Homo sapiens: one gene and its partners. The protein of the gene in region 2 purifies or fractionates together with the protein of the main gene of each other region. This does not show direct contact. Each region holds a gene or a part of one and is shown on either strand. Other genes may lie near its edges. The genes, in order: ERAP1, ALK and TUBGCP2.

Region 1 (3,652 bases), on a different chromosome or scaffold from region 2:
AGTAGCCAGACCTCCCGATGGGGCAAATTAGCATCATCTGCCAACTCCCTTTGTTCACATGTGAGTGGGGATAATGGTGCAGATTAAACATTGGACCTTGAGCTACTACCTGGCTCTCCCACTGCCATTCCAGGGCAGGACTAAGGAGAGGCCAGTACAACAAGGGGTGGAGCACTAGAGATGGAGGCAGAGGTAGATGCCAGGGAAGGAAAAGTGGATATGTCCAGGGAGCCCAGGCAGCCTTGAGCATGGAGGGCTGATGGAGCTGGAGTCACAATGAGAAAGGGAACAAGAGTCTTCCCAGACACCCTGTATTCCTTGGTAAAGGGCTCTTTTCCCCTCCACTCCCATTACCACGGATGGTGAGTCACAAACTCAAATGCCTCCAGTGGCACATGACAGGGCATATAAATAAGGGAAGTAGTCCAAGGATAAGAAGAATGCTCTTTTACATTCTTTTTCCCCTGGACTTTCAATGGAAACATGCAAGCAAGAAAGACTTTTCTGTTTGCTACCGGTAAAACAACAGCCAAGCACAATGGTAACTGGCAACACACTCTCAGCCTCGGTGAGAAGACAATAGAACAGTTGGGAATGGCAGGGAAAGTGGAAAAGCAGAGCCTTGATCTTACAAAGAGAGAACAACAACTTAGCTCCAGCTTATGCTGCAAAGAACATACAGTGGCCAAATCCTCCTTTTTCTTCCCCAAGAGAAGCTAGAAATCTGGATTTTACATAAAATCTCCCAATCATTAAACTGTTGTCAACAATTCCCAACTCTGTTACTAAGCACACTGTGCAAGACAATTATTTGCGTCTCAACAATATTAACCATTGCTGAAGGCCTTGAAAAGTAAGCTACACGAGGGCAGGAATTTTTGTCTAGTACAAAGTTGATGCTCAATCAATACCTATTTGTTGAATGATGAATAAAAGCAGAGTTTCTGTAAGCCATGAATTTTCAACCCAAGAAAGAATATATGAAGAATTTCCCATAAAATAATCTTTAGGGTTATGAGCCAAACTGCAAGTTAGTCCTAAAAGAGTTGACTCCAGCCAGCACGTGTCAAGAGAGAAGGCATTCAATCTGGGTTTAACCCCACAACCTTGCCTATAACTTCTCCACCCCAGTATGTATAACTTTAGTATCTAAACTGTATCCTTATACTCAATCTACTTTTACCTTATCATAAGAAACATCATCAAACATCTCCCGGATCTGAGCAGGATTTTCCACAGGTGTAGACACAGGGTGTGAGGAATTTAAAGCATCTACCTCCATTGCGTCAAAACATTTGCCAAAGAAATAATCTCCCTATTGAGATAGAAAAAAGAAAACATCACCTATGATTTACATTTAGATAAAAAATGTCAAAGGTGGGACATTTTATCTGAGGCAAGAAGTCCATACTTCACATTTTGGGGGCAACCTATTCCATATTTCCTAATATTTATGAAACAAAATAGAATTAATATATTCTAAAAGCTACCCAAGAAACAATGATTTTAGTTAAACATTATAGATTTTGTTCATCTTAAGTCCTTTAGAATAAAGAAAATTTCGTATTAATCTAAAAACGAAACAATTATGCCTATAGCCAAACAGCAACACAACAAGAAATTAACTGTATAGTAATTTCAACATTTCCAATCATTGTCTGTACTGTTTTAGAGCAAAGATACTTACCTTTAAAAACATAATGAAAATAAATGGAGAACCTTAACCAGCTTTATTAGAGCACATTAGCTCAACAGGACAATATGTATCCATAATCATTTTTATTACTAAAGATCATGTAGAAACATAAGAAAATATTTAGGATTATAATGCAATATTGATGTGTACTTTCTAATTATGTACACAGGCAGATGAAAATAGGCAGTAATAAATATTCACAAATGTATATTTTAAATAATGTATACAGGCAGATGAAAATAGGAATAAATATTTACAAATGAAAAGAATCATTGGAGTAGGATAAAAAAATTTTTACATAAGTTTAATTTTGCTATATGTGATTTTCTTAAGTTAAATGTGGTGATTTAAAAAATAAACCATATAGCAGTTCCAAAGCAATAAATTTGTGATCCAGAAGCCTAGGTTGTTATACAATCAAATGTGCAGTTACCTTAAGTATAACTCATTTGATTTGGCAAGTAGGGTCCTATTGAGATATCAGTAATCTGTACCTAATAATTCTGCAATGAGCAACCTGAAGGTTGGGAAAATGAAATGGAACATTTAGGCTGCCATTATTTCTATTTCTTTGATATTAAGAAATATAAAATCGGACAATTTACAAACAATCATAGATTCACAACTGAGTTTGTAAATAAGTCTTTGTGGTATATCTTGAAAGTTCACTAGCATTTTTGCAACACGATTCATATCTAAACTGTCAAGGAAGTTATCAGTGAAATATTTTTATAAGTTCTATAATCAAAGATTAGTGAATATTTTCCAGCAATATTGAACAAAACAACAAATTAACCTCAAATGTGAAGGATAAATAACTACTTACAACTTTCAGTTCAGGATGGGTCACACTGACAGACACAAACTCCATAAATTTGGCAAATCCTTCATTTAGCCAAAGATCATTCCACCATTCCATAGTGACCAGGTTCCCAAACCACTAAAAGCACAACATAAGCCATAAACAAAGACACTCAGAAAGAAGTATATTTTAGATGTCCAATATAAGTTTATGAATGTTAACATATATTTACAGGACCAATATTTAATCAAGGTAAAAATAAAAAAAGTTCAACATGCATTATAAGACATAAAAACGAATGCTTTGGAGAAACAATTTTTCCTATTAAAAAAAGACAAAGTAAAAATTATATAAATAGCCTTATATGTCCCATAGAAGCAATATAAATGTAGTTTATACTTTATTAAAAGTGTGAATGAGCTTATACCTGGTGAGCCAGTTCATGGGCCACAGTCATTGTGATGCCAAGCTTACTTGATGCAGAAGACTTTTCTGCATCAAACAACAGAGCAGATTCTCTATATGTTGTCAGTCCCCAGTTTTCCATAGCACCAGACTGAAAGTCGGGAATAGCAGCAAGATCTTGGGAAGGAAGTAATAAAATACATTACCAGTCTCTAAGCTATACATTCTCCCAAACACTAATCTTCAGAATGGATAGGTGTTTGAACCAGCTGCCCGTGCATAATCATGGAGCTCTAGACTGGAAGAACCTTTCACAATGGAGAAAAAGAGGCTTAGTGACTCAGCATCACTTTGCTATAAATGTGGCAAAGTCAGACTTGCATCTCAGGCCTTTTTTTTTTTTTTTTTTTTTTTTTTTTGGAAACAAGGTCCCACTCTGTCACCCATACTGGAGTGCATTTGCAGTGGTATAATTACACCTCACTGCAGCCTCAACCTCCCAAGCTCAGGTGATCCTCCCATCTCAGCCTTGCAAGTAGCTGGGACTACAAGAGTGCACCTCCACACTCAGCTAATATTTTTGTACTTTTGTGGAAACAGGGTTTTGCCATGTTGCCCAGGCTGGCCTCAAACTCCTGGGCTCAAGTAATCCACCTGCCTGGGCCTCCCAAAGTGCTGAGATTACAAGACATGAGCCACCGTGCCCGCCTTTTCAGGCCTCTTGACTCCATTTCTAACCTTCTGATGAG
Region 2 (3,652 bases):
TTCATTTACAAAATAAAGCAAACATTTGTCCTGCCTACCATAGGATTAATAAGTAATAATAAATGTGAACATGCTTTATAAATTGTAAAGTTCCAAATAACCATAACAGGACACTAATAATGATTATAAAGAAAGGCAAAATTTCCTTTACAGGTCAGACTGGAAAAATTTCCATGTTGTGAGGTTGCCAGGCAGTGATCCTGAGTGGCAGGGCACTGAGACTTCTGCTGATCAACTCTCATTCTTTTCTTCTCCCACCTTCAGGCCAGTTCCTCCTGATTTTCAGCAGACCAACTTCCTTATAGATATTCCTTTCTCACTCTGTTGCCCAGGCTGAAGTGAGGTGGCACAATCTCAGCTCACTGAAACCTCCAACTCCCAGGTTCAAGCAACTCTCCTGAGTAGCTGGAACTAAGGCGCATGCCACAATGCCTGGCTAATTTTTTTATTTTTAGTAGAGACAGGGTTTCACCATGTTGGCCAGGCTGATCTCGAACTCCTGACCTCAAGTGATCTGCCCTCCTCGGCCTCCCAAAATGCTGGGATTACAGGCATGAGCCACTGCGGCCAGCCTAGATACCCATTTTTATTAATAATCACACTCTCCTCCCATGCCTTACACAAAAACCCCTCATGGACCTTCTTTCTCTTTTAAAAATTTTTGAAATGTTAAATTGGATGTGGATGAACTTCATCTTTCAAATGGCAATATAGATTCTCAACATTTAAAGGGATTTTTAAGTAGCCAGTAGGAGTCCACCAAATCTAGAACTGATGGCATCTTCTCAAGACACAGGTCACCTTTTGCCCTGCTCAGTGATGCTTTGTCATATACCCTCACCCATAGATGTATCTTAGATACACAATTCTCTGGTGATTGTGCCTCCCAAACCCCTGGATATACAGATCGCACCCCAGAGAAATAATCTATGTTTAATTGGAGGGCAGGGAAGAATAAATTCAGTAATTTCAAAATATTTGTCATTAACAATTTCTTAAGTGCTTCTCACCAACTTCAAAGATGTATATGCAATTCTTTTCTTTTCCTCTAAAAACACCAATGCCCAAAGGCTCCAGGGTTTGGATCATAAAAAGGTTCTGATTCCTTCTGCCATTCTGCATCCCAGCTCTCTGTCCTGTTGTAGCTTCTCAATATGTGAAAATATAGAACTGATTAATTAGGAATGCTGGGACTTGTCTGACCCACATCTCACCTGACTCCCCACTCCATTGGAATTCCATTCCATAGTCAGAGGAATATCAATGTCAGAAAACAAGGTTTCCCTGATATCCAACCCGAAGTTTGCTTCTACAAGTATGATCCAATTACTTCCATGGGCCACGCTAAATAACTCCTCTCCTTCACTGCCACTCTCTCTCTTCAGAGATTTGTAGATTGTTACCATGGCTTTCCCTTCATCGCCATTTAGCCCAGCCATATATATTTAATTCTTTTCATCTTTCATTGTAAATCAGTCCCTTCAACTGTTAAATCAGCTCTCTGCTCTTCTCTGGACTAGTTCCAATTCTCCCAATTCACCTCCAATAACTGATATCCCTTCTGGGAGCTCCAATTTCCTCTCCATCCTCCTTTGCTCTCTCTGCCCACTCCAGAAATGAAATGGGAAGGGACTGACAGATATGGGAGTTCAAAGGTCAGATATATTGCATTGCATACATCTCTAAATTGCTCAGGCCTCTCCATAGTACATGTAAAATCCAAAGTCATGTATCCACTTTCCTGGGTGGGGAGGGAGTGCTTACAGGGAAATAGGCCTCCTATCCCATGAGTCATCATCCCCTAGCCCTCTGCCTGGGTGACAGCAGAAACAGATCTCAAAACACCTGTAAGCCAGGATACAAACTGGAGCTGTGGGCAACATGCCAGCCTTGCAGACAGACATCTTTTCTATGATTTGGGCTGTCCTGGGAGAGGCCAGAACCATTAATACAGTCCCAGAAACTGCCTCTTCACCTCTTCTCCATGAATGGGTGAATTTGGGATCTGCCTCAGACTTGAAATGCCGATCCTATTTCTGAATTCACAGTAACCCACAAGGAAAAACCATTAGCATTTCATGCATTATAAGGCCTCTCAGACATCTTTCTGTCCTCTCAGACAGCCCAAATCACAAGCAATGCAACGGTTTTGCTTTCTCCTAACTGGTGCTTTTTCATTTTTACTATTTTAGTCATGGTCCTGCTCAGGTTTAGGAAGCTATCTTTGGTCTGAGCCAAATGGGCTGCTCCAGGCCCCTCACCACAAAACATGGAAGAACAATCAGCTCTTCCCTCCCCCACAAATAGCCCCATCAGCATCATTGTGTACCTCCAGACAAGACACTTGGGCAGACACAGGAAGAAAATAAGCTGAGCTGTGCCTACTTTCCTTCTGTATAATTGAAGAGCCCACATCATAGAAGAGTTAAATGCCTTTTCTATAAATCAGAGCCTATATAAAAATAATAAACCCATTTCTCCAAACATGATAAATAGCAAAATCAATCCCAGTGTCAGAACCTAACCTTGAATTTTCATAGGGAAAATGAACGGAACCATAATGATACATGTTGTCTGAAACACAGAACATGGTATAGCAAGGTGTATCTACTCCATGGGGATGTCTGCAATGGAGACTGTATCTGAATGAGGCTGGGGAGGCAATGATAATGTGAGAGAGGCTAGTCCTGCATGGCCAGCTGCCTAACTGCAGACAGCATATGTCCTCAGAGAAAGGAGAGACCAGGCTGTTCCAAGTATGATCACCACAAGGCCCGAAGTGCTTTTCAATAGGCTGGCTGTCTCTCTGGAGGTCATGGGGAGCTCATCCAGTTACACTTAGTGTCTTATTTGATCCTATCAATAATCATTTGATTCCAATCCTGCTGAAAAATGCTTGGCCAAATTTTCTTGCCTTTTAATGGCAGAATCCTGGCTCCTACTGAAATCAGCATTGCTAGATGTGTCAAATGATGCATAAGGGCTTGGTCCAGCTGCCAAATGTACTGGGCCACTGAGGGAGGGCTTGGGATGCCCACAATGCTTCCCTACAGCCAATAGCAGAGAAGCCCTTGGAGCACAGCCTTTCTACATAAACCTCCCCACTCAGCAGCTCCAACACCTTATTTAAGACTTGAGTGGAGTATATTCTTTAAATGAATTAAGCATGTGACTCTTCAGAGACACCCACTGATAGCTTCATGCAACCTACCTGTTTACAGTTGGCAGGTTCGGGGCTGTAGAAATGAGCCCTTTTGCCTGTCACCAACATCTGACAACAGCTGATACAGACTGCTGGATTCTATGGTCATTTGATAAAAGGTGATGGGGAAGCTCCACAGATGCTCAGAGGCATGAAACTAGAAGATAATCTGCATTTCCAGAGAAGTCATTTTTATATCCATTACTAAAACACTGGGCACTAAAACAGAATGTTGCATGTATAAACCACACAAACCACAATGACATTAAAGCCCAGCTGTTCTTTACAAAAACATCTTGGGTGGAACAACAGTATCAGTCTTCCATCTCAGTTCACTGAAGGCACTATCAAACTCATCAGTGCCTCTTAGGATGGTCTATATAAATTCCAGCACTAAATGAAAAGGGCTCACTTTAGGTGCCAGTGTCACTAACACTAATGTTGAAATGT
Region 3 (3,652 bases), on a different chromosome or scaffold from region 2:
GCACACCTGCAGTCCCAGCTACTCGGGAGGCTGAGGTGGGAGAATCACCTGAGCTTGGGAGGTCGAGGCTGCAGTGAGCTGAGATTGTGCCACTGCACTCCAGCCTAGGCAACGAAGTGAGACCCTGTCTCAAGCAAAAAAAGAGTCAGTTGCTTCACCTCCCCAATATTCAACATCCTCAGTGTCATCTCAACACCTGCGATGTCACCTGCAAATCACCACGTCCGAACGACCACCGAACACGTGGCTCCTCCGTGCCGGTGTGGGGAAAAGGCAGGACGCGGGCAGATAACACCTTCGCATGCTGCGCGGGAGCGACCAGAGGGAGGGGCACTGCGGAGGCGGCGCTGGCCAGGTGGATGCCCACACGGTGAGGAGAGCATGGCGGGAACGTGGAGTGCTGGCAGCTGCCTCGTGCTCACAAGGTCCTGATGCTTTCCAAGGCACCTGTCCTCATCACACCACTCCACAGCTGTTTTCCAGAGGACGCAGGCCCGAGGTCACACAAGGTCCCGTGGTGTGGCACTGGTCAAATCGTGGGGTGAGGAGCTAGACAGGCCCCGGCATGAACACCACAGTGAGCTCCATTCTCAAGTCTGCACAGGTGGCACAAGGGGACAGGGACAGTGCGGACAAAGGGAGGCAAGGCAGCCTCAATACCGGAGGCACCCCTGGGACCTGTGGTATGTGGCCGTGGGAGGGAGGTGGGGCGAGGCCGCCCCTTTCCTGGGATGCTGAGTGTGCTGAGGGCACCTGCACCCTGACCTGAGAGCTGGCTGCAGGGTTCACAGCCAAGTCTCACACACTTGCTGCCAATCACCGCCACGCTCAGAGCTGCCCACGGCGCCGCAGCGTTACTGGACAGTGCGTTCCTCTTTTGTACAACCCCTTCCCTGAATGGGGAAACATGGGGGGAAAGCCTGAACACCCCCTCAGTGCCTCCTGCTCCAAAAAGCCGGCTCCACTGCTGGGATCCCAGGCAGCAGGGCCCCGCGCTTCCTTCTCCGAAGTCTGCCTGGGTACCATCAGGAGCTCTCAGGTGCCCACCACTCCCCGGCTGCCTGCTGAGTACCCGCTAAGGGAGCAGCTCTCTCTCCCTAAGTCTTCACAGTTGGGTTTTCACAGTTGGATTATTACTGAAAACACTGCACAAAGCAGACTGCTTTGTTTTTTTTTTTTTGAAACAGGGTCTCGCTCTGTTGCCCAGGCTGGAGTGCAGTGGCACGATCACAGCTCACTGCAGCCTCGACCTCTCAGGCTCAAGTGATCCTCCCACCTCAGCCTCCTGAGTAGCTGGGACTACAGGTGCACGCTACCACACTCGGCTAATTTTCACATTTTTTGTAGAGACTAGTCTCGTCCTGTCGCCCAGGCTGGTCTCGAATTCCTGGGCTCAAGGAATCCACGCACCTCACCTCCCTAAGTGCTGGGATTACAGGTGTGAGCCACCATGCCTGGCCGAAGTAGACTGTTTTCCATACTTTTCATTAACTTACAGCATGGTTTTCTATACTTCTCATAACTTACAGCAGGGTTTTTCTATACTTTTCATTAACTTACAGCAGGGTTCTGTTTGCTTGGGGATGAGGAAAACAGGTGGATTTCACGTCACCGTTCTCCAGGGTTTCCGGCAAAGGCAAGGGTTGGCCCCTTGGTGCCCACATTGCAGAGCCGTGAGTAGTGGGGAAGCAGACCACGCTCCATGCTGCCTCTTGAGTTTGGACTAACGGGGATGGGGCAAGATAAGCAGGTATGCTCTGTCCTTAGTTTGTGAAATCTCATTTTTCAATCTAAAAATGTACTTGACTAGGCGTGGTGGCTCATGCCTGTAATCCCAGCACTTTGTGAGGCCAAGGTGGGCAGATCACCAGAGGTCAGGAGTTCGAGACCAGTCTGGCCAACACGGCAAAACCCCGTCTCTACTAAAAATATAAAAATTAGCCAGGCGTGGTGGCGCCTGCAGTCCCAGCTACTTGGGAGGCTGAGGCAGGAGAATCGCTTCAACCTGGGAGGTGGAGGTTGCAGTGTGCCGAGATCACGCCACTGCACTTCAGCCTGGGCGACAGAGCGAGATTCCATCTCAAAAGAACTAAAAATAAATAAAAATAAAAATGTACCCATGAATTGTGACAGATGAACACATCCCAGGTCCCCAATAACAACGTCTTGAAATGACTGTGTGGTCTCACCCGCATCTTGTTTACACGAACACTACTTAAGAGGCCTCTGAGAATACTGCTGTAACAGAATCTATGGGAGTCATGAATCGCTGTTCAGAAATAAGTGCTGCACACAATTCTGATGCCTGCAGGTCTGCACCAGGGCACCAGGATGCCGGCTGGGGAGGGGCCTGCTGCAGGCTGCCCCACAGCTCTGGCAGAAGGGACAGGAGAAGAACCCTCAAGGACCCGGGTGAGCCGTTCTCTGCTGCCATCCTGGGATGGGAATATGGAGGCGGCAGCCAGTCAGCATTGAGCCTCACAACCTGAGGAAAGGCAGGCCCGGGGGAGGGCTGGGCCTGCAAAGTGTCCTGCCCAGAGGCCAGAAATAAACACATGACATACCTATCGGCAGAGCCCGGAAATCAACGCATCACGTACCTATCGGCAGAGCCCGGAAATCAACGCATCACGTACCTATCGGCAAAGCGGTGTCTGTGCTGATGCCAGCACCAATCAGGAAATCCCCGATCAGGGCAGGTCTCTCATACACCCATGCTGGGAAGATGGGGAGGTGCTGGCCTGAATTTTTTTTGTTCTGCTTGTCTCGAAGCATCTTTCTTTTAAGTTCCAGAGACTAGCAAGGACATTTTAAAAAACAAAACCAGAAAGATACACTTTAGCGCAAACACTCAACTAAAGACATGCATAGAAGCTAGCATCTACGGCAAAGATGATTACTCAATTCAACACCCACAAAGGGTCAACCACATAGAAATGAAATGCGCCTCGACATCCCTGCCTGCCACAACGTGAGGGGCTGGGGACAACAGGGCAGATGGGGAGCCCTAGCCCCTCTTCTCAGGAGTGCAGGTCCTGCAAGGGCCCCCCTGGGAAAACATGAGCACCAGCAGTGGGAACCACGGGAGAGGGTGCACCTAGGCACAGAGCCGCTGTTTCAAAGGAGGGCGCCCTGTGAACAAGCTGAATTGCTTCTTTCTGGCAGTGACTAGGTCTGAACACCACTTGATGGGTGAAGACAGGCTTCAGCAACAGACATGCATCCTTACCCTGCCGGAGAAGGGCCCCAGCGTGACAGGATGGCTCCTGACATGTGGTCAGAGAGCCTGCCCTCCTGCGCCAGTGGCCGCCAGAGGCTGATGGGGTCGGCCTGGGCTGGCCCAGCTTTCGGAAGCACTGACTCCCACTCAGGGCTGGTCAGGGACACGGGCAGATGCAAACTGTCTCTGCACGTGGCAGTAAGACCCAGTCTTCTGCCACGGCTGAGGGAGACGTGGACAGAGGCCTAGCACCATGTCCAGCACAGAACGTGCCCAGCAAGAACCGGCTGGGTCCTTGGGAGCCGCTGCACTCAACACGCACCCAGGAGGCTAGGACGCCTCAGGGACACAGCTCCAAAGGGAGTTTAAAGGTCACAAAGGCAGGAACGTGGCAGCTCTAATGAGAGAGACTGGGAGATGACTTACGTCAAA

What was found.
Region 1: the proteins of ALK (region 2) and ERAP1 purify together in Homo sapiens (affinity purification with mass spectrometry; one large-scale study listed by BioGRID and IntAct). This does not show direct contact.
Region 3: the proteins of ALK (region 2) and TUBGCP2 purify together in Homo sapiens (affinity purification with mass spectrometry, with the first as the bait; one large-scale study listed by BioGRID). This does not show direct contact.

The regions. Positions count from the first base shown.
Region 1 is NC_000005.10:96,790,878-96,794,529, forward strand, and holds part of ERAP1 (endoplasmic reticulum aminopeptidase 1 isoform b precursor), read right to left. Parts: intron 3,170-3,652; exon of another isoform or gene 3,110-3,169; intron 3,081-3,109; coding exon 2,926-3,080; intron 2,637-2,925; coding exon 2,523-2,636; intron 1,316-2,522; coding exon 1,184-1,315; intron 1-1,183. UniProt on the Homo sapiens protein: Aminopeptidase that plays a central role in peptide trimming, a step required for the generation of most HLA class I-binding peptides.
Region 2 is NC_000002.12:29,914,947-29,918,598, forward strand, and holds part of ALK (ALK tyrosine kinase receptor isoform 1 precursor), read right to left. Parts: intron 1-3,652. UniProt on the Homo sapiens protein: Neuronal receptor tyrosine kinase that is essentially and transiently expressed in specific regions of the central and peripheral nervous systems and plays an important role in the genesis and differentiation of the nervous system.
Region 3 is NC_000010.11:133,295,316-133,298,967, forward strand, and holds part of TUBGCP2 (gamma-tubulin complex component 2), read right to left. Parts: intron 2,797-3,652; coding exon 2,637-2,796; intron 2,090-2,636; coding exon of another isoform or gene 2,006-2,089; intron 1-2,005. UniProt on the Homo sapiens protein: Component of the gamma-tubulin ring complex (gTuRC) which mediates microtubule nucleation.